4 linked regions of the Homo sapiens genome follow. The protein of the gene in region 2 interacts with the protein of the main gene of each other region in a biochemical or structural test. Each region holds a gene or a part of one and is shown on either strand. Other genes may lie near its edges. The genes, in order: MARK4, NLRP3, HERC5 and CD82.

Region 1 (7,165 bases), on a different chromosome or scaffold from region 2:
AAATCGATTGAACCCAGGAGGCAGAGGTTGCGGTGAGCCGAGATTGTGCCACTGCACTCTCCGGCCTGTGAGACAGAGTGAGACTCCATCTCAAATAAACAAACAAACAAATAAATAAATAAGATAAACTGTGTTCAAGTGCTCAGGCACAGCCTGAGGGGGATGCGTGATCACTGGCCTAGGCAAAGTCCAGGCTGGGATCAGGGTTGGGGTCAACATTAGGATCGGGGGCTGGGCTTAGGGATCACAGCTCCCTCCTGGATCCAAGGGTTAAGATTCAAAGGTCTGAATGCCCCAGTTGAAGGAATGAATTCACCAGACATAGGTTGTGGAGGAAGGGCTAGCTGGATGACCAGGTCGGGAGGCAGAGGAACAGGCCTTGCCCCCCAGCTCGGCCTCTGCACCGCGGACCCATGGTCAGCAGTGGCCCATCATGTACTGGGATCGTGCAGGATTTCCACCCCGCCTTATTTATTTATTTATTTATTTATTTATTTAGAGACGGAGTCTTGCTCTGTCGCCAGGCTGGAGTGCAGTGGCGTGATCTCTGCTCACTGCAACCTCCGCCTCCTGGGTTCAAGCAATTCTTCTGCCTCAGCCTCCCGAGTAGCTGGGACGCAGGCGCTTGCCACCTGCAAGCGCCCGGCTAATTTTTTGTATTTTTTTTAGTAGAGACAGGTTTTCACTGTGTTAGCCAGGATGATCTCGATCTCCTGACCTCGTGATCTGCCCGCCTCGGCCTCCCAAAGGGCTGGGATTACAGGCGTGAGCCACCGTGCCCGTCCCCCTCCTTTTTAAAAATTATTTTTTTTATTTTGATTTAGAGACAGGGTCTCACTATGTTGCCCAGGCTGGTCTCGAACTCCTGGGCTCAAGTGATCCTCCCGTTCTGGCCTCCCAAAGTACGGGGATTACAGGTGTGAGTCACCGCGTCCAGCCCCCTTTTTAAATTTTATTATTATTTTTTATTGAAATACAATTCACATACATAAGAGTCACCCTTTTCAAACAGAGTCCGGTAGGTTTTAGTATATTCACAAGGTTGCAGCAAGCGTCACCACTATTTAATTCCAGAACATTCTCATCACCCCAAAAAGAAACCTGGTACCCATCAGCAGTCATTTCTCATTCCCCAGCCTCCAACCCCTGGCAACCATTAATCTACTTTCTGTCTATGGATTTGCCAATTCTGAATATTTCATATGAATGGAAGCATACAGTAAGTGGTCTTTTGCGTCTGACTTCTTTCGCTAAACATGCTGTTTTCTTTTTTTCTTTTTTGAGACGGATTCTCACTCTGCCGCCCAGGCTGGAGTGCAGTGGCGCGATCTCAGCTCACTGCCAGCTCCGCTTCCCGGGTTCACGCCATTCTCCTGCCTCAGCCTCCTGAGTAGCTGGGACTACAGGCGCCCGCCACCGCGCCCGGCTAATTTTTTGTATTTTTAGTAGAGACGGGGTTTCACCGTGGTCTCGATCTCCTGACCTCGTGATCCGCCCGCCTCGGCCTCCCAAAGTGCTGGGATTACAGGCGTGAGCCACCGCGCCCGGCCACATGCTGTTTTCAAGGTTCATCCACTTTGCAGCCTCCCTCTCTGTAAGCCTCGGTCCCCCCACATCTGGGAAATGGGGTGGGGACGCTGTTGGGGAAGGGAGGGCAGGGGTGGACCCTGGAGTGTGTGGGGCGCGTGTAGGGAGGTGATCGGCTGCCCCCGTGTGGTGCACGGTAGAACTGCAGCTCTCAGCGCCAATGCAGGGAACGGGTTGGGGGCGCTCAGCCCCTCTAGCCTACCCCCAAGACCCCCACTTTCACCCTGCGGCGTCCCTGGGATCACAGTACGTCTAGAACACTACCCCGGAACTCCACCCTCTCTGCCACTGTCCCTGAGGCTCCTCGGGCCATATTTGCCAAATAGTAATAATAATGTCCCCACATATGAATTTTGAATCTGGTCCCCTGTGAAGCACTTTACTCAAAGATTCTCATTTATTTGTTAGCAGTAACATTAAAATAACAAATAAATATAAACAAATTGACAAATAAAAATAGTAGCAGCCTGAGGTTGCTGCTATTATTTTTCGGAGACAGGAAACCACAGTGGTTGAGAGAGGGTCCAAGTTCTGGAACTTGGGAGCACTTGGATTCAAATTGTAGCCCTGCCACTAATTTGCCGTGTGACCTTCAGCGTGTGACGTTTCTCCCTTCCTTGGGCCTCTGTTTCCTCATCTGCAAATGGGATTGATAAAGATGCTCCCTACCTCTTGGGGTGGCAGAAAGGAGAAACTGCTCAGAGCCTGGCACAAGGGCAACTGCCATGAGTCTGTGTTGCTCATAGTATCAAGCAGTGCTGTGCTTTCACAACCAGCTTTTGGCTGAGTGCAGGGTAGTCCCAGCACTTTAGGAGGCCGAAGTGGGAGGATCGCCTGAGCCTGAGAGTTGGAGATCAGCCTGGGCAATATGGCTACAAAAAATTAGCTGGGCGTGGTGGTGCACACCTGTAGTCCCAGTGACTTGGTGGGGCTGAGCTGGGAGGATTGCTTGAGCCGGGGATGTCCAGGCTGCGGTGAGCCATAATCGTGCCACTGCACTCTAGCCTGGGTAATGCAGTGAGACCCTGTCTCAAAAACAAAACAAAGCAAAGCAAAACAAAACACCCCCAGCTCTCTGCAGGTGGGGGTGTGGAGCCTTAATTTGTAGCATTTGCCAATTTCCATGGTGTAAATATTCCCACCATGGCTAATTTCAAGCTACCAAGGTGATATCACATGGCATTTTTGCCCCCCATTATATAGTAATTTTACTGTGCAGCTACAATAGACGTAGGTAACCTCAAGATCACAGATAATGGCAAATGTAGTAAGATAACTAGGACGTGATGAGTATGTATTACTTGTACCTTTAATGTAATTTAATTGTATGTTTGCATAATTTAATTTTTAATAATGGCTGTGTTTAACAACCAGTTCCAAAATTCCTGAGACATAACAATCAGCTCGCTCCAGCCAGATCCAGCACACTGCTGTTTTAGAAGGGGAAACTGAGGCTCAGGAAAATAAGCCTCAGATAGAAGAAGGCAGGGCACAGACCCCTTCCCAAAACCATGTGACTCCCAGGCCAAGACTATGTAATGCCTGTCTTTCTTTCATCCCACCCTGGTCCACAGAGCATGGATGGTCCCCACAGCGCTGTGTGGCCTCCGAGAGGCTCTTGTCCTCTCTGGTCTCAGCCTGCCCGCATGGGGAGTGGCTGTGCCCTGCAGGCGAATACCTGCACAGGGTTCCTTCGCACCTGCCAGTGAGCAACACACGGATTCTTCCTTTCACTTTACAAACTGGGAAAGTGAAGCCCAGAAAGGGCAAGTGCTTGCCCCGGGTCATACAGGTGGACAGAGAGGGTCCCCACACCCCAGCTGGGGTGCAAAGGAGTGGATGCTGCAGCCCCAACCTGCGGGTCTGGATCTATGTGGCTGAGTGGAGGCAGCCTGACTAGGGAGGTCACTGAGCCCTCAGCAGTGGCCAAGCCCCGCACACCATCCCCTTCACCCACCCCACCCTTAGGCCTCCGAGGGGAGAGCTTCCCCCGCTCCCCCCCGCCAACTGGGGAGAGAATGGGCCAGGGGGAGGGACAATGTGGGCAGCGCCTCTGGGGTCTTCTCTGGCTCAGTCCCTTTATCTCTATCTCTTCACAGATCTCTGCGTCTCTGTATCTCTTTGTCTCTCCCTGTGTGTGTGTGGGGTCTCTCTCAGTCTTTGTCCCTCTGCGTCTCTGGGTCTCTCTGTCTCTGTCTCCCTGCGTCTCTCTCTCTCTGTCATCTGGCTCTTCCTTCATCTCCTTGCGCCTCTCCACCCTTTTGTAACTCGTCTCTCTCTCTTCGTGTCTCTCTATCTCTACGTCTCTCGATCTCTCTCTCTGCGTCTCTGGCGCTCTGCCCCGGCCTCTCTCTCCCCTTCTCTCCTCTCCAGTGCGCCTCTCGTCTCGGGCGAGAACACGCTCCCCGCCGGCGTGCCCAGACCCGCCTCCGCCCCCGGAGCCCCCGGAGCCCCCGGCGCCCCGACCAGCCCGGGCCTGCGCCTTTAAGGGCCGGCGGCGGGGGGCGGGGTCCCGGCGCCCCGCCCTGCCCGCCCCTCCCCCTGACGTCCCTTCCTCCCTCCCCAGCCCCTCCACCGCCTCCCTCCGCCGCCGCTTGGGCCGGCTCCGCGCCCCCTCCGCGGCCCCCGCCCGCCCGCCTGCCCGCCGCCCCCATGGCGCCCGGGGTCCCCGCTGCACGGGGCCACTAGGACCCTCGGCGTCCCTTCCCCTCCCCCGCCCTGCCCCCTCTCCCGCCGCGCGGACCCGGGCGTTCTCGGCGCCCAGCTTTTGAGCTCGCGTCCCCAGGCCGGCGGGGGGGGAGGGGAAGAGAGGGGACCCTGGGACCCCCGCCCCCCCCACCCGGCCGCCCCTGCCCCCCGGGACCCGGAGAAGATGTCTTCGCGGACGGTGCTGGCCCCGGGCAACGATCGGAACTCGGACACGGTGAGTGGGGCCCGGCCCCTTGGGGAGCCCTGGCTGGGTCCAGCCGCCAAACCCTTCTCCCCGTTGTACCCCTCGCCCCGCGAGCCCCTACCCTCGTTTCCTGGGCCCGACCCGGCTCGTCACCTCTCGACCCCTCCCGGACTTCCAGGCCTCTCCACCCTCCCCACCTTTTCCAGCCCAGCCCGACCCCTGGGGGCGCCCCTCTCTCGGGACCCCTCTCTTGTCCCCGTGCAGACCGCTTCCGCTCGGGTCTGTTCCCTCCAGGAAGCCCCTTCCCCTGCTTCCAGGAGCCCCTCCCTTCTCTTGCCTGTGCTAAGCCGTTTCCCCTCCAGGCCGTCCGCGTCCGACACCTCGCCCCCTCCCGGATTTGCAGGGCCCCTGACCCCCCAAGGCCCGGCCCTGGCACTCTCAGCAGGGCCTGGCCCAGTCCTGCCTCTGGCTCCGGCCTTCCCTGTCTGGGGCTGGGTGCCGGCTCCCCAGGAGCCCCCCTCCTCTTATTCCCAGCCCTCTGCCCCTCCAGGACGCACCCAGGGCGCCTGTGGGCAGCCCCTGGCAGGAAGCTGGTTTCCACCTCTCCTGGGCCCCGGCCCTTTTCTGGCTTCTTCAAGGTCTCTCCCGTCCCAGGCCTGGTCCCCATCTTCCAAGCAGCCCTGTCCCTAGATCCCAGCACCCCGGGGCCCCCAGATGCCACCTGGACCCTTTCTGGTCTCTTCCTCTCCCAGGAAGCCTTGGCCTCCAACTTCTAGGCCCTCACCTCACCCAGGCTGGTATTTCTAGGCCCTGGACCAGTCTGACTCCAGGCCTCATCCGCCCTCTATCAACTTCTCAGCTTCAGGCAGCCCCTTCCCCAACCCCCAACCTCTGGACCCCCTGCTAGGCCAAACTCAGACCCCTTCCCCACAAACCACCGTCCTTTCTCCTGCCCCAGGGCCTCCCCCTTCCTTGCTGGGAGTCTGGCCTTCCAAGGAAGCCCCCTCCTCAGCTTCAGAGGCCTTCCTCAGCTACAGGGCCTGGCCCCAGATCCTTCTTCCAGAAAACTCCTGGACCTGAAGCCTCTCGTCTTGCCCTGGTTTCAAGCCCTTTTCCCTTGGGTCAATCTGCTGGAAGCTTTCTCCCCAAATTTCTAGACCCCTTGACCTTCCCCAGGGCTCAGCCTTTATTCATCTGGGCTGCTCCTTGCCCAAGAAGTTCCTACCCCATACTTCCAGGCCCCCCAGACCCTTCTCTGGTTTCAAGGACTTCTCCTAGAAGCCCCCTTCTCTGATTCCTAGGAGCTTCCCCAAGACCCAGGGATTCCTGGCCTCTGACTTCCACTGCCCCCATGGCTTTGTCACTTTCCACCATTCCCAGGCGCCCCCTGCCCCTACACTGCTTCCCAGAGAGGCCCCTCCCCATCTCCTGTGTCTCTGATCACTGATCACTTCCAAAGACCTGCCCACCACCCAATCCTAGACTTCTCCCCACCTGGGATCTTTGTGGCTTTCTCCAAATCCTTCTGCCAGGTCCCTGTTCCCCTTCCCCCTGTTTCCCTCACCTCCGACAGACCCCCCCACACACACACACCATCAGAGAGATTTATATCTGTCCCTTCCTCATCTTGCAGATCCCTCCCTCACAGAGACCACCCCGCATCATCACTATGGGCCAGAACTCCAATTTGGAGTCTAATGAAATGCCTACCACCTCTGTTCCTTGGTCACTACAATCTACAGTGAGGTGCCAGGGGCTCCACAGTCCTGGGTTCCAATGCTGACATGGCCAGCTGGTTTGCCTTGTGTCCTCAGACAACCAGTTCTCCCTTTCTGAGCCTCAGTTTCCTGCCCTGGAAAATAGGGGTGACCGCTTGAGTGCCTCCAAGGCTTACTCGATTCAGGCGAAGGCTGGCACCTAGGAAGCACTCCACAAATGCCAGCTGCTATTGTGGCTGTGGGTATGAGTCAGACAGCCCGTGGATTCTCAGCTCAGGGCTGTTATTGGTTGTTGAGTGAGCCTGCAGATTCACTCCCAGCTTGCAGCCTCAGTTTCCTTATCTCTAAATCGGGTTGATGATGGCCCCCCACTGTTAGGGATGTTTGCAGGAGCCAGCGACGTGATGTGACTAAGGTGCACAGGGCCTGGCATGTGTCGTGGCTGTTGTGGTTATTAGCACTACTTTAATTGTTCAGATAAACTTGGGTTCACATCCTGTTTCTGTCCCTCCCTAGCTGTGTGACCTCGGGCAAGTAACCTTACCTCTCTGAGCCTTGGTTTCCTTGTCTGTTAAGTGGAACGCCTAATGAAGACTTGCTGTTCCCTGGGTTGTTAAGATGCGTGCATGGTGCGGATTTGAGGATGGCTAATCCCCTTTTCTCTCCTCCAACTCTTGTCACTAAGACCTGCCTGTCAGTCCTGGTGGGGAGTCACTTGCCTGCCTCTGGAATGGGAGGTTGCAGCCCCCTCTCCTGTTACCTGGTTACCATGGCTACAGCCACGTGGGGTCATGCTCCCCCACCCCAAGTTCCAGGGCCCCCCACCAGGGGGCCAGCCTCCCCAGGTTCCCTAGCAACAGTCCCGGGTGTTGGGGCGCCAGCCGGGCGGGAGGGAGCCAGGCCAGCTGGTGGTGCAGGCCAATTTTAGCTCCCACCCCCGGCCCCCAGGGGCTTTGTCACCCACTGC
Region 2 (7,025 bases):
TTTGGGTCCTCATCTCTGGCTGCATATTGTGTACTGCCTGTCTCAATACTGCTCAAGGGTCACACATGCTGAGCATTTGCAACATTGGTTTAATTATCATACCCCACCTTCCACCCCCGTTCTCTGACCTGCTCCTGCCCTCTTCCTCCTGCCTCATTGAATAGTGGGGCTTTCCAGGAGGCTGCTGAGTGAGTAAACGGGGGACGGTCCTAAATGCTCTGCTTTCGGTTCCCTCTACCACTCATCACTACACCAGAGGGAACTTTTTAAGATGCAAATTTGAAAATATTGACCCTTTGTTCAAAAATCTTCAAAAGTTCTTCTCTGCAGTCAGAGTGACATCTTAGCTTGGCACACAAGGCTGTCCCTGATACTGCCCTCTCTCCTGCCATACCTTGCACTCCATTTTGAGTCATATTGGATGAGTTTTGTTTTGCTGTTTTAGAGATGGGGACTTGCTATGATGCTCAGGCTGAATTTGAATTCCTGGGTTCATCTACAGCCATACCACCCAGAGTGCCTGATCTCATCTGCACTCCTGGGCTCAAGCAATCCTCCCGTCTCAGCCGCCCAAGTAGCTGGGACTATAGGTGGACATCACTGTGCCCAGCTATGAATTAGTTTTGAAACATCTTGGTGGTTCTTTTAATCTTCCTTATTCTTGCTACTCTTTTCCTTTTGCCTGGAAGGTTACCCCCACTTTCCCACTTTCTACTATCCATCTAAGAAGCTCCTACTTATTTTTTAATTACTGTGATCCTCATTTTGTCCATTTAAAAGCAGGGATAAAACTAACATTCCCATCTTGAGGTTGTGATCATTCAATGAGATAACCCTGTTTAAAGTCGTCATCCATGTCAAGCACACAATAAATACTCAAAAAATGTTTGATCTTCTTCTTCAGATTCCTTCCTTCCTTCCTTCCTTCTTCCTCCTCCTCCTTTCTTTCTCTCTTTTTCTTTTTCTCTTTCTTTCTTTCTTTCTCTCTCTCTCTCTTTCTTTCTTTCTCTTTCTCCCTTCCCTTCCCCTCCCCCCCCCCTTTCCCTTTCCCCTTTCCTTTCCTTATTTTCCTTTCTTTTCTTTTCTTTTTTTAAGACAGGGTTTTGCTCTGTGGCTCAGACTGGAGTGCAGTGGTAGGATCATAGCTCACTGTAGCCTTGAACTCTCCTGGGCTCAAGCAATCTTCCTGCCTCAGCCTTCTGACTAGCTAGGACTACAGGTGTGTACTACCATGCCTGGGTAATGTTTAAAATGTTTAAAATTTTTTATGTAGAGACAGGGTCTTGCTATGTTGCCCAGGCTGGTCTCAAACTCCTGGCCTCAAGTGGTCCTCCCACCTTGGCCTCCCAAAGCACTGGGATTCAGTTTTCATTATGAGACAGTTTTGTGACATAGGCAGGTAGTTAATAAATAAAAATCCCCAACCAATTAACTTAATACAGTACATGGCAAGATATCCGTGCTTGGTAAATGTAGAGCTCAGTTAGGTGGATTGGTTGAAATCGAGATGTCAATCACATTCCTCTAATCCAAGGATTGGTTGGTGGGACATGGTTGTTTGATTCTTTAAACATTTTATTATGTGTTCAGTGTAACCGTTGCTTAATAGTTACCAGCATTTTCACAATTTGGATATGACGTTTTCTTAACAAAACTGCACCGTCTGTTGCAATTTCTACTACTACTGTGTAGTGCTCCCCAAACATCTGTTGAATAATCCATTCTACTCCTTTTTGGAAATAGTGGTAAAGCCTGCATAACTTTAATTACATAATTTAAAAAATATTTTCTCTTTTCCTCTTTGAAGACCATCCCCATTCTACTAGAATGTCCCTGGCCTTTGCCAGGAATGCTACTAATCCCTTCTGCATGTTAATTAACAACAACCCTCTGATAGAATTCTTACCGGGGATGAGAGCTTAGTAGAAGCCACTCAAAACTTGCTTTGTTTTTGTCTGTCTCTCTTGGGCTTCATTTGCCTATTAGTCTTACTTACTGTGTCTTTTCAGTTTGACTCTTCCTTAATTGGGAAGATAGAAACCAGTGGATGGATAATCACTTTTTCCTGCTGGTCATCTGTTCATGCTTTACTGTCTGAATACACTTTTTCTGTATTTCTATTTTTCCTGCCTCGTAGACACCAAAGAGCTTAAAAAACATGCCATTGCCAAGGACTCTGGCAGGAAGGAGGCAATCACCTGCGCTATTCCTGGCTTCATGGAATAGAAGCATCTGTGCTCCTAGGAATTACGCCACCAGTGATTTTAGAGCTCTTATGCTCTTCCTGGGTGATAGAATGGGCTTAATTTGACTCAAGAATAGTACATCAAAACTCTTAATTCCATCGAGATTGATGCATTTTTGGGGTTTTATGCTCTAAAAGGCCTTTTGCTGTGCAGAAGGAAGAGAGAGGTGGACAGAAAGGGCAGTGGGGAGAAGATGAGACTAAAAGGTGGAAAGTCCAGGTCTGGATCCCTCCCCACCACACACCTGCTCTGTGGCCTTGAGAGAAACATGTAATTTTTATAAGCCTTAGATTTCTAATATGTAAAATGTATGTAATAGTTTTAGCTGCACTCCTTCCTTGCCAGGTTGATATAATAATCAAATAAGACTGGTCTCTGGGTCAGGCACAGTGGCTCATGCCTGTAATCCCAGCACTTTGGGAGGCCAAGGTGGGTGGATTGTCTGAGCCCAGGAGTTTAAGACTGCAGTGAGCTGTGCACTTGGCCTGGGTGACTGAGCAAGAGCCTGGCTTTTTCTATTTATTTATTTATTTTTGAGACAGAGTCTCACTTTGTTGCCCAGGTTGAAGTGCAGTGGCAATCTCGGCTCACTGCAACCTCTGCCTCCCAGGTTCAAGCAATTCTCCTGCCTCAGCCTCCCAAGTAGCTGGGATTACAGGTGCCCACCACCACCCTAACTAATTTTTATATTTTTAGTAGAGATGGGCTTTCACCATGTTGGCCAGGCTGGTTTTGAACTCCTGACCTCGTGATCCACCCTCCCAAAGTGCTGGACCTCCCAAAGTGCTGGGATTACAGGCATAAGCCACTGCACCTGGCCTTATTTATTTATTTATTTAGGCAGGGTCTCACTCTGTCACCCAGGCTAGAGTGTGGCAGCGCAATCATGGCTCACTGCAGCCTCGACTTCCTGGACTCAAGCGATCCTCCCACCTCTCCAACGTGGTTGAGGGCTGCAGCGAGAAAGATGTGAAAGGGGCATTTGGGGGCGCAGGAAGGCGGGAGGTGGCAATTGCTAAGGGCCCCGCCGTGTTCCTGTCACAGCCCTAGCTACAGCTTAGAAGGTCACAATGGACGTTCACCTGTTGTCTTTGATGTTTAAATCAGCACCGACTTCCCATGAGGAGGATTTTTTTTTCCTGTCTCTCTTAAAAAAAAAAAAAAAGGCCCCTGCAGTGTGGGTGTCTGCAGTGTTACGGGGATTATTAGTTGAGGATAACCACTGGGATGTGTTTCTGGAAGAAGTGGTGCTGAGGAGCACTCCTGGCCGGAGGAAAGCTGTGTGAGGAGGAGGAGGAGTATGGGGTAACTGGCTCAGTTTGCCTTGGCTCTTTCTGTCGGACTCATACAGCAAAGCATCTGCTGAGACATCATTTGTGTCTCCTGTGACAGCCAGAGACAGCAGGTCTTGCTCTCCCCAGATCATATCTGAGATGCTGGCTCCTGCTCTCTGAGCTGAAGGCTGCAGCTGCTGAGAGAGGACGAGGCACTGAGTCAAAGCAGCTGCACAATGTTGGGGAACAGCTGGGTACTGAGGACTCTTCTCCCTGTCCTTCTACAGGTTGGTGAATTCTGGCCTTACGTCAGTCTGTTGTTCAGCTTTGTCCTCGGTACTCAGCACTAATCAGAATCTCACGCACCTTTACCTGCGAGGCAACACTCTCGGAGACAAGGGGATCAAACTACTCTGTGAGGGACTCTTGCACCCCGACTGCAAGCTTCAGGTGTTGGAGTAAGTCCTTTGGTTTATTACAGCAATGAGAACACATGGTGGCCAAGGGTGGAGGGACGTTTAGGCAGAGTGGCCACAAGATAATCTGTATCTTAGAAGTGAGGTGTCTTCTTAGTGTTTGCCTTGTTACAGGATCATGGGACTGGGAGGAGTCCTTCCAGATGATATAGATGTAGGAACTTGAGTCCTTACCATCACAGTTTTCTGTACCACAAAACAAGGAGGGCAGTATGACACTTACATTTTATGGAAATGTAGGGAAAGGCACAGAATTTGGTAAATCAATGAACAAACCACTGTTACTAATTTGATCTGTGCAATGCAGTGGATTTGAAAAAGAGAGAGAAGAATAATTACCAGCATACAAGGCTGCTTGAAGCTAGTTAGTCCTGTGCTCCTGTGCTTTTTTTTTTTCCACCTGAAACAAGACAGGCTAAGATGCTAAAATCTTGGGGAGCTAGGGGGATGGTTAAGGGGACATTTTCTTTAAATCACCCCCTTTTTGCAGATTAGACAACTGCAACCTCACGTCACACTGCTGCTGGGATCTTTCCACACTTCTGACCTCCAGCCAGAGCCTGCGAAAGCTGAGCCTGGGCAACAATGACCTGGGCGACCTGGGGGTCATGATGTTCTGTGAAGTGCTGAAACAGCAGAGCTGCCTCCTGCAGAACCTGGGGTGAGTGTGCTCTGCAGAGATGCCCGTGGTGGGACTCTGAGTTCTCAGGAAACGTTGACTGTTATCAAAATCCAGGATGGCTCTCGCTTCATTTGCAGCCACTCAAGATTAGGTTGGGCCTGGGTCAGTTGTGGTGGATATTTTAAAATAGAGAATATGGGGTTAAACTACACATTCCACTTCACTGAGATGGTTAGAATCACCAAGGCTAAGCTGGATTTCACCCACATTCCCCAAAGAAACACAAGCCCTCATGCGATCATGGCCAAGGAGGATTCTGTTCTACACAAGGAACCGAACTTCGTAGAACTCGTCTATGGGTCATCCAAATTGGAAGGGTCTTTACATAGTGGGGATCTTGTTGTTTTGTTTCTGAGGATTTATTTTTTTTTTCCTTGAGACAGAGTCTTGCTCTGTCGCCCAGGCTGGAGTGCAGTGGCATGATCTCGGCTCACTGCAAGCTCCGCCTCCCGGGTTCACGCCATTCTCCTGCCTCGGCCTCCCAAGTAGCTGGGACCACAGGCGCCTGCCACCACACCCGGCTAATTTTTTGTATTTTTAGTAGAGTTGGGGTTTCACTGTGTTAGCCAGGATGGTCTCCATCTCCTGACCTCGTGATCTGCCTGCCTCGGCCTCCCCAAGTGCTGGGATTACAGGTGTGAGCCTCCGTGCCTGGCGGTTTCTGAGGATTTCTAAATGGGAAAAGAGTGCTCCAGGAATAGCAAGATGGGAAATTACACGAAATTCGACAGTGTGTCAGGATATTGCCAGCCCACCTCTGTGATACTACTGAGGTAGTCGTCTCCTCTCTAGCAAGAGCTTCCTGGCGAGTCCCACGGTTCTGTCAGCCGTGATGATTGCACTTTTCCCTGAAGACGTTTTCACTGCTTGGCTTTAAGGCCAACATGCTCTCCTGGGTTTTCTCCTATTTCATCAGATCCTTCTACTCAGTCTCCTTTCTGGCCTCTTCTTCATCATCCTGACCCTTATGTGTTGAATCCTCAGAGCTTAGTCGCTGGGCTAATTTTTCTTCCCTACACTTTCTCCCTCATTTAAATTATCTGGTCTTCTGGCTTCATGATATGTGTGCTGTGGCCTCCAGATTATATGTCCATAAATTCTGTGTCTCCGTGCTTGGCTGATCTTTCTTCTTGAAGGTTTAATAAACCTCTCAAACGTCACATCTAGATCCACACCCTTGCTACTCTCTTCTACCCGAAACCTGATTCTTCCCCATTTCAGTCGATGGTCACTTCCTCCAAGTTGCTCGGGCCAAAACATTTCTGGTTCTGTCGTCACTGTCTCTTTTTCCTTATAATCATGTCCAATGTGTCAGCACATCCTGTGAGCTCTGCCTTCCCAGCTTGGCCACTCCCTGACCACTTCAGGCCAGCTTCACGGCTTCTTCCTTGGCTCAAGCCACCATCACCTGGTGTCTGGATTGTCATGGTGGCATTCTGACAGGTCACCCTGCATCTGTTATTCTGATTTTAGCAGACAAGGGATTCAGCTAAAACGTAACTCGCATCATATCACTCTTGTCAACATCGTCTTCTTATCACTTTCATAATCAGAGCAACAAACTCATGGTGGCTTCCATGCCCCACATAATCCAGCCTCTCCTGCTTCCGAAGATTCCGCTTCTCCCAACCCTTGCTTATTCTGCCCCAGTACAGTGATCTCCTTGCTGTTTTGCAAGAACACTGTCATCTCTGGATTTTTGCACTTGCTTTTCTTCTGGCCTAGAACTCTCTCCCCTTCAGTATCCACCTGCATTATTCCCTGTACCTTCCTAAATTCTCTGCTTAAAGGTCTTCTCTGCGAGGCTGTCTTTGACTATTCTACTGAAAATAGAAGCACTTTTTCTTCTCTTCTCATTCTCCTCTGCAGTGTAGCACATCTTATGTGCTATGTCATTTTCTTGTTTATTTATTATCTATCTCTGCTCCCAAAATATAAATTCCATTAGTCCAGGGACTTCTGTCCATATTAATGATCTCAAGGCTGAGAACTTGTTGGAATGCAGGTTTGAATAAATACAAGTTTGAATCAGCCTTGCATCCTTGTGCCAACATAATGGAGCACATTTGCTGCAGGACAAGCCAATATTCCCAGAGCTAAGAGAGATGGGGGAACAAACAAAGGATTGGTCAGGTCAAAGCTGGGGACACTGCTACATGTAGCATCACTGACCTAGCCCTGAGGGACATTCTGGACCCAGGCTGAGGGACAGGCTCAAAATAGATTGAAGAATCCATGAATGCAATCAACCCGTTTTCTCAGGCTGCGATAACAAGCTGCTTTAGACTGTGTGACTCAAACACAGATTTATTATCTCACAATACTGGAGGCTAGAAAGTCCAAAATC
Region 3 (7,025 bases), on a different chromosome or scaffold from region 2:
TTGCATGGTTGTGTATTTCTGAAAGTTAAATGTCTAGAAGTAGAATTGTTGAGTTGAAAAGGCAAATATGTTTTGATTTTGCTAAGTCCTGCCACACTGTTCTCTGAAAAGGAGTACCAATTTATATTTCCACGAATAATACCTGAAATTAAAATGAAAGTTTTCAAGCCCTTGCTAATACTATATAGCATCAACACTTCAAACCACTGTCAACTTGAAGTATAAATTAGCCTCTCACGTTAATATGCATTCTATGAGCACTGGTGAGATTGAAGACATTTTTATTTAGGAAGCATTTCTATTGCTTCTTTGCCAGGTTGCCTTCTTGGATACTTTGTGAATATTTCTTACGGATGTGTAGGAATGCTTTACACAGCAGGGATATGAAAACCCTTTTACTGTTGCCATTTTTTGGTGAGGTGGTGGCTTGTCTTTTAACTTAGAAATAAGTTTCCATTTTAAAGGTGATGACATGAAACAACATTTAACATAAATATCACTAGCAGATTTTGCACCAAGGTGTAACCTGTGCTCTGTGCATGACTGTTCCTACACAGAAAAAGTTGAAAGATTAATGCAAACATTGAAGTCTAGTTATGGGAATAATCAACACTTCCTAATTTTAGAAAACGAAATTATCATCCAACAATTCTTGTCAAAGTTAAAACTGGTCTAAAGTACCTAAAATGCTGCTGTTGAACATGGAAATATTATGAAGCGTGTGTACTTAAATATTTGCCTAAATATATGTTAGAAAGGGTCCTTTCTCAGGAACTCTGTTTACTTACTTTCCCAAATCAGGACTGAGTTCTTTCAAGTCTTCCAATGATGGCATTTGGTCCAAAAGTTTCTTAAACAGTGCCAGTGGGAAAGGAAGGTTGGCAACATTGCAATTGAACAGGGAAAGTCCACATAGAACCCCAAAAAAGAAGTATCTTTTCTTCTCAAATTTAGGCTGAAAAGCGAAAAAAAAATCTTAAAGTATTATGAGTTTTTACCAGTACAATGAAATATTTATATTAAATAAATCTTTGTTTCTCTTTCATAAAATCAAATCTCAAATTGAAAAATTTAAAGCCTGAGATAAGAATGTTTAGGGTTTATATTAGGTTGGTGCAAAAGTAATTGCAGGTTTTGCCATTAAAAGTAAAGGCAAAACCTGCAATTACTTTTGCACCAACCTAATATTTGGTCATTAAGTCAATTTAAATCCCTGCCACTCTCACGCTTGTAATCCCAGAACTTTGGGAGGTCAAGGTGGACAGATAACCTGAGGTCAGGAGTTTGAGACCAGCCTGGCCAAACTGGTGAAACCCCATCTCTACAAAAAATACAAAAACTACCCAGGTGTGTTGGCAGGAGCCTGTAATCCCAGTTATTGTAATCCCGCCAGGCTGAGGCAAGAGAATGGCTTGAGCTTGGGAGGCGGAGGTTGCAGTGAGTTAAGATCATGGCACTGTACTCCAGCCTGGGTGACAGAGTGAGATTCTGTCTCAAAAATAAAGCAAAACAAAACAAACAAACAAATAAAAAACCAAATAAATCCCTGCCACAGTTTTGGTTCCTAAAAGCATACCAGCAATAAAAATACATTAGGTTCAGTAATCCTTATAAACTAGTTTTCACAATTTCTTTCCACAGCCTTTGTCTTCAAATTCATTAGGAAAACAGAACTGACACAAAGAATGAGTACCTAAAAAAGAGAGGGTTCCTTTTTAATCCATGCATTATATAAATGATCAAAAAATATATTGCTTGAGTTCGATGTGAACAGACATGGGAACCCAGGAAAAGGAAACTCCATTTTAAAGAAAATAATCACCTTATTAGAATTATACATTATCTCCATAATTATATCAATACTCCTCTTCTAACATGAAATAGTCTAGACAAACTAATTTTCTATGGTATATGGTGTACTTTTTCTGTCGCAAAATACCTTAAGCAAAGAAGAGGGAACTTACCTTGACAGGAAACCACATGCAGGAAGCCCCTTCAGGATACATGAACATCCCATATTCCGGCTGGATCATCTCTGCAAACAGACAGTAGAAGAACTCTTTCTTGACTCCTCCGAGGTCATACCCAATTTCTCCACTAAATGAAACCTGAGGAAACAGAGCAAATAATACATCACTTCCAGGGCTCTATATTGCTATATATGAAGTCTCATTTAATAATAGTAAATAGCTAACATTAATTGTGGACCCAAGTATTTGGAAGGCACTGAGGTAAGTATCCTACTTATATTATCATATTTAATCTCTACATTAATTCTATGAGATAACGAGGCCTTGAGAATTTAAATAACTTTTCCAAGTTTATACAATAGTCAGGTGGTGCAGCCTAGTTTTTTTGTTTTGTTTTGTTTTTTGAGATGGAGTCTCACTCTGTTGTCTAGGCTGGAGTGCAGTGGTCTGATCTCGGCTCACTGCAACCTCCGCCTCCTGGGTTTAAGCGATTCTCCTGCCTCAGCCCCCAGAGTAGCTGGGATTACAGATATGCACCACCACGCCTGGCTAATTTTTTTGTATTTTAAGTAGAGACGGGGTTTCACTGTGTTGGCCAGGCTGCTCTTGAACTCCTGACCTCAAGTGATCCACCCACCTCAGCCTCCCAAAGCGCTGAGATTACAGCCATGAGCCACCACACCCGGCCTACAGCCTAAATTTAATCCTTTATCAGTCAAACCCCAGAGCCTAAAGTTTTTACCACTTTAGGTAAAAGTTTTACCTAAATTGACCTCAACTGGCATCACTATTATAGTCACCAGATCCAAGTATAATAAAAATAAACAGAAAGAAATCATAAAAATTGGCCGGGCGTGGTGGCTCACACCTGTAATGCCAGCACTTTGGGAGGCCGAGGTGGGCGGATCATGTGAGGTCAGGAGTTCGTGACCAGTCTGGCCAACATGGTGAAACCCCGTCTCTACTAAAAATACAAAAATTAGCTGGGTGTGGTGATGCATACCTGTAATCCCAGCTACTCAGGAGGCTGAGGCAGGAGACTCACTTGAACCCGGGAGATGAAGGTTGCCATGAGCCAAGGTCGCACCACTGCTCTCCAGCCTGGGCAACAGAGTGAGACTCTGTCTCAAAAATAAATAAATAAATAATAAAAATCAGGATATTCAAAAAACCAGAGCACACATAAGGTGTTTGCTGAAGTGGCTGTTTGCTCCCCGAGGAGGCTGCACCCCTACTGCTGACACCAATCCCTCCCAAGAGGATGCTATCATAACCCATCTTTGCTCCTTCAGTCACCCCTCCATTCCTGCCTTTTCCTGGAATCCTTCACTTCCATTCACAAACATGTTAAGGTCCCCCTTAACCTTAAAAGGAAAAAAAAAATCCCAACACATTGTCTCCAATACAAACACGGGCTCCTTCCACTCTTGCCAAACTTCAGAGATATACGCCAACTTCCAAACCCACTTCTCCACTTAAATGGGTCTCTCCAAGAAGAACAAGAACTGTAAATCCCCAAGCTCCAAGGACTTTTTCTCATATCTCATCTCCTTGATTTCGTTAACTCATTTTCCACTTCTGATCATGTCCTTTTCCTTGACACAATCTTCTCCCTTGCTTTCTCCTATGAAGCACTCTTCACGGTTTTATTTATCTCTTCTTTTTCCTGCTGGCTTAATTTCTAGAAACAGAATTGCAGACAGTTCTATCCTAACACTTCTGTCCTTTCTCTCTGTTCTTTCCCTGGATGCTCATTTTCTCCTTAAACTTTGTTTACCACCCATACGTATTTAACCTTCAGATTCAGTGCATTTTCTCTCCTGATTGACAGTCACTTCCAACGGCCTGTTCAACATTTCTACCCAGATGTTATACTAGCATCCCCAGAAATCTCCTCTTACCAGTTTATTTATTTAGATGCTGCCTCTTCCATTCCTCTTGGTGAAATAGTGAAATACTAAAAATCTTTGTAGCAAGACCAGGTGTCAAACCCTTCCCCCTCTTCTTACTAAGGACAAGCTGCCCAACCTCATAAAACCTCAGTTTTCCCACAAGATTATCAGAAAGATTACAGGGGTCATACATGTAAAATGCCTCACACAGAGCCTGCAAATGGTAAATGCTGAGTGTTACCTGAATTTAAAAACTGAATGAACAATATATAAAAGTGGAACTCAAATAATCGAGTAGACTGACTGGCAAAGCATAGAATCACATAACGAGTCCATTAGAGTTATACAATTATCTGTGTGCAAAAATACATGGAAATACCAACTCTAACTGCAATATATATATTTTTTTCCTTGAGACAGAATCTTGCTCTGTCGCCCAGGCTAGAGTGCAGTGGGGTAATCTTGGCTCACTGCAACCTCCACCTCCTGGGTTCAAGAGATTCTCACTGCCTCAGCCTCCCAAGCAGCTGGGATTACAGGCGCCCGCCACCACACCCAACTAATTTTTGTATTTTTAGTAGAGATGGGGTTTCACCATGCTGGTCAGGTTGGTTTCGAACTCCTGACCTCAGGTGATCTGCCCACCTCAGTCTCCTAAAGTGCTAGGATTACAGGCATGAGCCACTGTGTCTGGGGCAATATGCTTTTAAATTGGTATCTTGAGACTTGGTAAAGTCAATCTTTCTTTAATCTGAGTAGGAGAAGTGATAAACTAAGGTCCCCAATAAAAAATACTCCATTTACTAAATATTATCAGGCCAATCTTTATCCGTCTTCATTAAGCAGAAAGTCTAGTGCTTAATGGCCAGGCCCAAATCCTCTGATGCTTATCAGTTGGGTTACTCTTGGATAAGTTACCTAATAGTTCTGTACCTCAGTTTCCCCATCTGTAAAATGAGGGAAAAACAGAATCTGCCACATAATGTTGTTGAAAGGGTTAAAAAATTAGGTATAAGGCACTTAAAACAGTTCTTGCCACAAGGACAGCACTCAAAAGATCTACTGGTCATTATGATTCAGTATCAAATATTTACTAATAAGACAAATTATATGGTAATTAAACAAAAAATCAGTTAAAGATCTTCCGAACATGGTCAAATCTACAATTATACCCCAAAATAACTGTAGGATTTAAAGAGAAAATTCTCTTTTCTACAAAGCAATTTAGGTTATTATTTTTGTTTTTTTTGAGACAGAGTCTCGCTCCGTCACCCAGGCCGGAATGCAGTGGCATGATCTCGGCTCATTGCAACCTCTGCTTCCTGGGTTCAAGTGATTCTCATGTTTCACCCTCCCGAGTAGCTGGGATTACAGGCACCCACCACCACACACGGTTCATTTTTGTATTTTTAGTAGAGACAGGGTTTTACCATGTTGACCAGGCTGGTCTCGAACTCCTGACCTCAGGTGATCCACCTGCTTCAGCATCCCAAAGCGCCGGGATTACAGGTGTGAGTCACCATGCCTGTCCCAATTTAGGTTATTGCATAAGAACAAAAACAACCCCTTAATTCTCCTCTATGCTAACCATCTCATTGAAACCCTTCAAGGGTGGTGCTAGCCAGGCTAGGCCAGACCTCAGAAGGGACTGGACCTCTTAGGGCCAACACTGAACTATCTACCTGAGCAGGGTGTGGGGAGAACAACCACTTTGCCTGCTGCTCCTTAGCCCAAACATACTGAGTGAGTGCCCACAGCTATCACCCAAAACTCAAAGGCAACTAGGGAATCAGAGGAACCCTAAAATAAACAACCTCTGTGGCAAAGGAAGATAACTTCCTCTCTATGAAACCCTTTGCCACATTCTTTTATGTTTTTCTTTTCTCAGCAGCAAAAACATTAAGTGAGAATTACACCTTACCCATAACTCTTTCCTCAGGTCTTCATTCTCAAATTGACTTAGCTGATTCAAAACATCCTCAATCAAGTGATTCCTTCTGACTGTTAGATCAAACGTGGGCCTCAAAGCGAATTCAGACTCTCTTTCTTCCTCAATTGCTGCCGACCTAAGATAAGCTTTATGTTTTTTACTCTAGGAAAACAGAAACAGAAATATTACACTTCATTTTACCATTGGCCCTCTCTAAGTAAAAATTTGGAAAGCAGAATAAACTGGTTCTGCTTATAAGTGCAGGTCACATTTATGAAAAGAACCTTATATGCACCACTGAAGATAAATGATAACATCAGTATTTAGTCTCAGTGAGCAGAGGAAACAAGGGACCTGAAGAATCAAAGCCTTTGTGGAGCCAAGCTGGATGAGCAAGTAAGTTACCAACTGCAGGTTTTAAAGGACCACTTTCTCCTATACACACAATTATTAATGCTTAAGATACCAAAGCTACTTATTAACAGGCTAAGAGATGTATTGGTATCCACTGAAACAGTGCACTGCAACATGATGCTCTCTCATTCCGAAGAGAAGTTCAGATGTTTAGAAAGCAAACAGGCTGCAGGAAAAAAAATCCAGGTTATGAGAGATGTCACCAAAGAGCCTACTCCAGGAAAAAAAAAACCAAGACAAGAGATTTTAAGGGAGAATTTACCTAAGAAGTTAATTGAAGAGAGACAAGCAGGGAGAGAGAGTGGGAGAGACAGACAGACAGACAGAATGTCCATTCTGAAACCAAATGGCAATTTTAGGTCATTAAAGTCTATGGTTCAGGGCCAGGCACGGTGGCTCACGCCTGTTAATCCCAGCAGTTTGGGAGGCTGAGGCGGGCGGATCACTTGAGGTCAGGAGTTTGAGACCAGCCTGGCCAACATGGTGAAACCCTGTCTCTGCTAAAAATACAAAAATTAGCTGGGTGTGGCGGCGGGCACCTGTAATCCCAGCTACTCGGGAGGCTGAGTCAGGAGAATCGCTTGAACCCAGGAAGTGGAGGTTGCAGTGAGCCAAGATCATGCCACTGCACTCCAGTCTGGGCAACAGAGGGAGACTCTCTCTCAAAAAAAAAAAAAAAGAAAAAAAAAGTCTATGCTTTTAGCAGAAAAAGGAGTAGTCAAATATTACTTCTACGAAATTATCTCTGGAACCTTGTTTAAAATCAGGAGAGAATAGGTTATAAGAGTTGAAGCAAAACAAAGTTCTTTTATCTTTTTA
Region 4 (7,025 bases), on a different chromosome or scaffold from region 2:
AGGTCTGGTCATGTCTCTGCTGCTTTCTATCTATGTGATCTTGGGAAGTTGCTCCAACTCTGAGCCTCATTTTTCTCTTCTGAGAAATGGGGAGGAGGGAGACAGGGAAGACAGGGCTGGCTTCCTCGGCATTCAACCTATGCAGTCACACAGGATAATCTGCTGTTGCTGTATTGAAATTCTTTTTTTTTTCTTTTCTTTTTGAGATAGAGTCTTGCTCTGTTGCCCAGGCTGGAGTGCAGTGGGATGATCTCGGCCCACTGCAACCTCCACTTTCTGGGCTCAGGTGATCCTCCTGCCTCAGCCTCCCAAGTAGCTGGGACTACAGGCACACACCACCAGGCCCAGCTAATTTTTGTGTTTTTAGTAGAGATGGGGTTTCACCATGTTGGCCAGACTGAACTCGAACTCCTGACCTCAAGTGATCTGCCCATTTCGGCCTCCCAAAGTGTTGGGATTACACGTGTGAGCCACCACGCCCAGCTGAAATTCTTAATAATTTTTAAACAAGGGGCCCTGCATTTTTGCTTTGCACTAGGTGTAAATTATGCAGCTGGCCCTGGGCAGGACTCTTTATGGCATGTGACAGTGACTCAACTGAAAGTAGCCAGAGCCAGCAGAAGGCTCAGCTGGATCCCAAAGGCTGCTGCTGTCCCTATTCACCCTTCAGCCCTACCCTCCTCTGTTGGCTCCCTTCTCGGGCAGGCTGTCCCCAGTGGAGCCTGAGGGTAGCCCAGGTCCTCATCCTACCACATTGATGGAAAGAGGGCCGGGTATGTGAGCATGGGTCTCAAGCCCATCTCTGAACCACTCGCCGTGCCTGTGATGTGGATGGCACTGAGTGGCAGCCCAGGTCTTTTGCCTGCTTCTGGCATCGAGGGAGTGGGGCCTCCTCAGCTCCATGGAGAAATAGAAGGGTGGTTACATCCAAGGAGTGGGTTTCTGCAGGGCAGGCAGAAACAATGGAGCGGTCCCTGGGGGGATGGAGGGAGCTCATGAATGTCTTCTCCTGCTACCTCCCTGTCCTTTTTGTCTCAGTAGCTACCTGGTTGCCAGGGTGACCTCCCTGCACTCCCAGCACAGGCCTCCTGAGCATCAGCTCCAAGCTGAACCAGCCCCTGTGGCCATGGTCCCCGTGGCCCAGGTGTGTCCCTCAACCACATTCTGGACTGAAAGATGTTGTGGTGTTTCCATGGAAACCACCCATCTAGGTGGAAACCACCCAGCTTCCATCACCTTCTCATTTCAGGGAGGCTGGGAGAGAAACAGGGAAGTCCAGGCTGCTGTGACAACCACGCTGGGGTTTAAACAGAGCCTCAGTGCAACATGTTGTGAGGAAGCTGGGTGGGTGGGGAAGGATGTGGGAGAGGCAGCTTTCCGCACAGATGCTTCTAGAGAGCCCCTCCTTTCCACACCGTGGGGATCACCCACCCACTGGGGTTGAGAGGTGGACCCGAGATGTCAGATCACCTGGCAGACAGCCCCAGCTATGTGACTCAGGCAAACCACTTAGCTTTTCTGGGCCCTGGTTAAAACTGGGTATAGCCGTGTGGTTTAAATGCCAATAAAGCTTAATAGGTAAAAACCTGGGTTCTGAAATCAGCCAAGCCTGTGTGCAAACCTCACTTCTTCCGCATGTTGGCTGTGTGACTTTGGGCAAGTTAATTAACCTCTCTGGGTTTGTTTTCTGCATCTCTATAATGAGGGAATGGGGTGAATACCTAGGCCATAGGTCTGCTGTGAAGATTCAGTTGAGATAATACATTTAAAGTGCTTACCACAGCACCAGGTACATAACAAACATTTGATAAAAGTTAGCCACTATTAGTGTTGGGATTAATTACTGACAGGAAAGCTTTGTAAATTGCAGAACTCTGTATAAGGGCTTTTTTTTTTTTTTTTTAAATATCATGCTGAGAGCTTTATTGAGAGAAGGGCAGGGAGCGTCATCAGAGGCTGGTTTCCCAGCATTAATTTTTTTTTTTTTTTTTTTTTTTTTTTGAGATGGAGTCTGGCTCTGTCGCCCAGGCTGGAGTGCAGTGGCGTGATCTCGGCTCACTGCAACCTCCACCTCTCGGGTTCAAGCGATTCTTCTGTCTCAGTCTCGCGAGTAGCTGGGACTACAGGCACCTGCCATTCACACCCAGCTAATTTTTGGTATTTTTTTTTAGTAGAGATGGAGTTTCACCATGTTAGCCAGGATGGTCTCGATCTCCTGAGCTCGTAATCTGCCCACCTTGGCCTCCCAAAGTGCTGGAATTACATACGTGAGCCACCATGGCCAGCCCCAGCATTAATTTAACCAAGGGAGCTGGGTGAGGAGCCAGGGCTGCAGGTCCATCTGCAGGATATGGGTTCTCTGAGCACAGCGTTCATTCAAGGACTGCCCATGGGGAGCTGCTGGAAGCTCCACCAACAGGGTTCCCTGGGAGTCAGGCTCTGAAACCCCACCTGGAAGTACCTGTCTCATTTCTCCCAATTCTTCCTTCTCAGGAACCGAGGTGGGAAGGTGTGTGGCCTTCTCCTTGGCATCCCTGCCTTCTAGGGTCCCTCGCCCCCACTGCCTTGACCAGTCCAACCATGCATTTGCCCTGAAAGGTCTCTGGGCAAGGTCCATGTGAGAGGCTAGGTGGAGCCAGGCAGGGGCTGGCTCTCGGAGGCTCCCCTCCCACCCAGGCCTGCTTATCGCCGAGGGAGGCCCTGCCCTCAGCGGGCTCTGGGTTTGCCTCCTTTTGCACAACTGACTTATTTAGAAACCCCTTCTCTGCCTGCTTTGTAAATCAGTGTTTTCTCTGTGGGGTTAGCTGAGAGCAGGTGCTGCTCTCCACCACAAGAAGGAACCCTTAATTCCTGAGCAGGGTGAGGACCAGCATAGGCAAGATGTAGATTTGGGCCAGGCGAGGTGTCTCAGGCCTGTAATCCCAGCACATTGGGAGGCTGGGCTGGGTGGATCACTTGAGGTCAGGAGTTCGAGACCAGCCCGGGCAACATGGCGAGACCCTGTCCCTGCTAAAAATACAAAAATTAGCCGGGCATGGTGACTCATGCCTGTAGCCCCAGCTACCTGGGAGGCTGAAGTGAGAGGATTGCTTAACCCCAGGAGGCAGAAGTTGCAGTGAACTGAGATCCTGCCACTGCCCTCTAGCCTGGGTGACAGGGAGACCCTGTCTCAAAAAAACAAAACAAAGCAAAACAAAAAAAAAAAAGTGAGATGTTTTTGGAGCTCTGGGGCAAGTAGCCAGGTCCCAGAAAGGCAACTGACCTCACACTCCGGCTGGCTGGCACTGCTGGCTTGGGGCTTGGGAAGGGGTGAGGGAGGATCTTTTCTGTTTTGTTTTTTGTTGTTGTTGTTTTTGTTGTTGTTTTTGTTTTTTGTTTTTTGAGATGGACTCTTACTCTGTCGCCCAGGCTGGAGTGCAGTGGTGCGATCTCGACTCACTGTAACCTCCATCTCCTGGGTTCAAGCAATTCTCCTGCCTCAGCCTCCTGAGTAGCTGGGATTACGGGCACCCACCACCATGACTACATAGAGGGAGGATCTTTTGACCATATAGTTGATACCGAAGTTCCAGGTCCCTCAGTCTTGGGGCCCCCTCCAGGCATCTACCCTGCTGTCTTGGGGGCCCTGTTTGGAGAGGCTGCACTCTGGTCCTTGGAAGAAGGAAACTGAGCTGGGCTTTCCTCCCTGTCCCTCCTTCTCCCTGAAGCTGCCCTGTGGGAGGTGTAAGGATTCACCAAGAAGTTGCATGGGTCTGGCTCTGGTGCCTGGCAGACCATGGTGGTTAGGTGTGCATTCAGCATTCACGTACCCCACACAACTATTCTGTGCCAGGCTTGGCGCTAGCCACGGGGGACCCTGTAGTGAGCGTGCCAGATGTGGTCCCTGCCCCCACGGAGCTGATGTGCTAGTGGAGAGAGATGATAAGCCCTGAAAACCAACAAGCATGTAACGTCAGTGCTCTAAAGAGAAATACAGCATGCTTTCCCTTGTGGGATAAGGGAGGCCGGGGAGGGGTGGTTGATTGGTTGGGGGAGAGGGGATGGGGAAGGGCTGATATTTTGTAGAGTGGTCTGGTAAGGCCTTTCTGAGGAGGTGACATTGGAGCAGAGCCCTGAAGGAAGCAGAGGGTGAGCCATGTTAATGTCTAGGGGAAGAGCATTCCAGGCGGTGGGAACAGCAGGTGCAAAGGCCCCAAGGCAGGAGTGTGCCTGGCACAAAGACAGCACAGAAATCTAGTCAGTTGAAGCAGAGGGAGGAAGAACAGAGGACAGAAGGCCTGGGGAGGCAGACAAGTGGTGTAGGACCTCCTAGGCTGTTATGGGGACAATGACGGTGGGAACTGCCCTGGAGGTGGGAGGCCCCTACGGGGTTTTCAGCAGTGACATGAGAATATTGATGTTTACAGGGCCAGGCTGCTGCCAAGCGCAGAAGAGATAGTGGGGCAGGAGTGGTTGGCACTGCCTGCATCGGGCACCCTGGGAGCGCCAGGAAAGTGGCTGGAGCCATGAGCGTGTCCCAGGGTTGCTGAGGGGAACGGGGGGAGGCAGTTTAAGTAGGGGTGACCACAGGTGGGCACGGGTTTCAGGAAATCTGACCCTGACCTTTGTCCTCCCCCCTGCAGCTGAAGCAGGAGATGGGCGGCATCGTGACTGAGCTCATTCGAGACTACAACAGCAGTCGCGAGGACAGCCTGCAGGATGCCTGGGACTACGTGCAGGCTCAGGTGAGGTGGGGCGGGGCTGCAGGAGGCTCTCTGGCCTGGGTGTCCCTGCATTTGGGGCTCTGTGCACCCACATGTCTGGGACTGGCATCTGCAGTGCTCGTGTGTGCCTGACAGTTTGTAGGAGAGTGTGCTTCTATGGGGGCAGGGCACCCCAGTTAGCACCACAACTCCCTGCTCAGGGGGCCCAGAGACTCAGAGGCAGCTTCACAGCTCTGTGCTCCCATTTGTGGCCAGAGAGCATGGGGGCAGTTGTCAGCCCTCTTATCTCAAGCTACACTGGGGAGCGTTGGGAGCTCCACTCTGGGTTTTAGGAAACTGGGAGCCAAGGCTGATATGCTGAGAAGTCCCAGTGAAGGCTGCCTCTGGGGAAGGGCACTAGCTGGGGAGGTGTTGGGGAGCCTTCTAGGGCAAAAGGAGTATTTTAGCCAAATCTTGATACTGGTTTCGCCAGTATGTGCACATACGTAAAAATGCACCAAGCTGAATGTGTGCCCATTAGTTCATGTGTATTATACCTCCATTAAAGTGAGAGAGATGGATGGATGGATGGGTGGACAGATGGACGGACGGACTGACCGACTGACCAACAGATAGACTGACCAGGTTCCCAGCCTGTCTCAATAGTGATCCAATGACCACCTGGCTCTCCTTTCTTGTGGTCCCGGATGCTGCATGTGCCCTTGGCTGGGACCTGACATCTCTGATCTGCAATCCTGTGAGGGCGCAGGACACAGTGGTCACTTAGGGCCTGTTGACACCTCAGGGGAGGGATGTGGAGTACAAAGGGCATGGGCAGCAGGAGAAAGCCTGACTCAGCGGCACCAGGAGAGTTTGCAGAGAGGACACTCCATCTAGGTGACATGGACATGGCCATTTTCTCAGTGGAGGAAGGGGAGAGCGATGTTTTCTGGCCCTGACCGAGGAGATCAGGTGTGGGGGTTGTGGCAGCTGGAAGGCTTGGTGCACACAAGGAAATGTTTTGGTCGCATATGTAGTTTGACCCACAATTGCTGAGACTTTGCTAATTTTAGCAAAGTCTGGATGTCACCAGTGACATAAACCAGTGCCACCTGACAAGGGACCTGGGAGGAGAAGTGGGTCCCTTGGGAGGTGGTAAGCATCCTACCCTGGAAAGTCATTGGCTGGTTCTAGATGATTCTGATGCTGTCAGATGCTGCTTAGGCCGGTGGTAAGTCAGACTCCCAAGGCCTGGAGTGCTAACACTGCCACAGCCGCTAGACCTTTGCTGAGCCTGCTTCCTCATCTATACAATGGGGCTACTGACCCATGCCGTGTGAGATACATTGTTAAAGCCTGAAGCACTTAGGCAGCATTTATTATGTGGTATGTTGGTGGTGATGTTTTAGTCACCATGCACATCCATGGAGACACAGGCGGAGGTGGCGTGTGCTGCTGGGGACCAGGTACAGCCGGAGTCAGGCCAAGGGGTTGCTTGGAAGGAGGCTCTGTCGTAGACGGGCCAAGGAGACCTGCCTCATTTTGCTCTGGTGTAGGATGGCCTGTGGGTGCCCCCAGCCTTGCAGACCTGTGCACCCCTCAGAGGTGCCAGCCTTTTCTTGGAGAGAGGAGGCAGCCCGGCTGCTGGAACAAGCACCTGTAAACCTGGATTAGAAACTGCCTGGAGCTGAGCATTTCTGAGTGTGCCTGGCACGCCCCCTGCTGGCCACTGGCTACTGGTCAGGCGACACCCCTCGGAGCTAGGAAGGAAGCGGTCCAGGAACTGACCCCTGCTGTGACCGTGGCTATCCCATTGAATCCTCCCAGGAACCCCCAGCATTGCGGGGATTCACACACAGAGACCTCCTTTAGCACACAGAGCCCGGAAAGGCTTTCTTCTCTCTAGAACTAGAGCATTTTCTCCTTTAAAATGGCAGAATTGACCAGCTAGCCAAGGTGGCTCACACCTGTAATCCCAGCACTTTGGGAGGCCGAGGCGGGCGGATCACTTGAGGTCAGGAGGTCAAGACCAGCCTGGCCAACATGGTGAAACCCCGTCTCTACTAAAAATACAAACATTAGCCGGGCGTGATGGCGAGTGCCTGTAATCCCAGCTACTCAGGAGGCTGAAGCAGGAGAATCGTTTGAACCCTGGAGGTGGAGGTTGCAGTGAGCCAAGATCACGCTGCTGCACTCCAGCCTGGGTGACTGAGCAAGACTCTGTCTCAGAAAAAAAAAAAAAAAAAAAAAAGGCGGAATTGACCCCGTCTCCTTTTTCACTTTTCACTTTTTTTCCTTTTCACCAGGAAGCTCAGAGGCAAATCTCAACTCCTGCACTAAAGT

The links.
Region 1: the proteins of NLRP3 (region 2) and MARK4 form a complex in vitro, tested with the Homo sapiens proteins (one study listed by BioGRID).
Region 3: the proteins of NLRP3 (region 2) and HERC5 form a complex in vitro, tested with the Homo sapiens proteins (one study listed by BioGRID).
Region 4: the proteins of NLRP3 (region 2) and CD82 form a complex in vitro, tested with the Homo sapiens proteins (one study listed by BioGRID).

What each region holds. Positions count from the first base shown.
Region 1 is NC_000019.10:45,247,130-45,254,294, forward strand, and holds the start of MARK4 (MAP/microtubule affinity-regulating kinase 4), read left to right. Parts: upstream 1-4,141; 5' UTR 4,142-4,459; coding exon 4,460-4,510; intron 4,511-7,165. UniProt on the Homo sapiens protein: Serine/threonine-protein kinase. Phosphorylates the microtubule-associated protein MAPT/TAU. Also phosphorylates the microtubule-associated proteins MAP2 and MAP4.
Region 2 is NC_000001.11:247,440,165-247,447,189, forward strand, and holds part of NLRP3 (NACHT, LRR and PYD domains-containing protein 3), read left to right. Parts: intron 1-3,807; coding exon 3,808-3,978; intron 3,979-4,486; coding exon 4,487-4,657; intron 4,658-7,025. UniProt on the Homo sapiens protein: Sensor component of the NLRP3 inflammasome, which mediates inflammasome activation in response to defects in membrane integrity, leading to secretion of inflammatory cytokines IL1B and IL18 and pyroptosis.
Region 3 is NC_000004.12:88,488,095-88,495,119, reverse strand, and holds part of HERC5 (E3 ISG15--protein ligase HERC5), read right to left. Parts: intron 5,955-7,025; coding exon 5,784-5,954; intron 2,109-5,783; coding exon 1,965-2,108; intron 956-1,964; coding exon 789-955; intron 1-788.
Region 4 is NC_000011.10:44,610,650-44,617,674, forward strand, and holds part of CD82 (CD82 antigen), read left to right. Parts: intron 1-4,622; coding exon 4,623-4,724; intron 4,725-7,025. UniProt on the Homo sapiens protein: Structural component of specialized membrane microdomains known as tetraspanin-enriched microdomains (TERMs), which act as platforms for receptor clustering and signaling.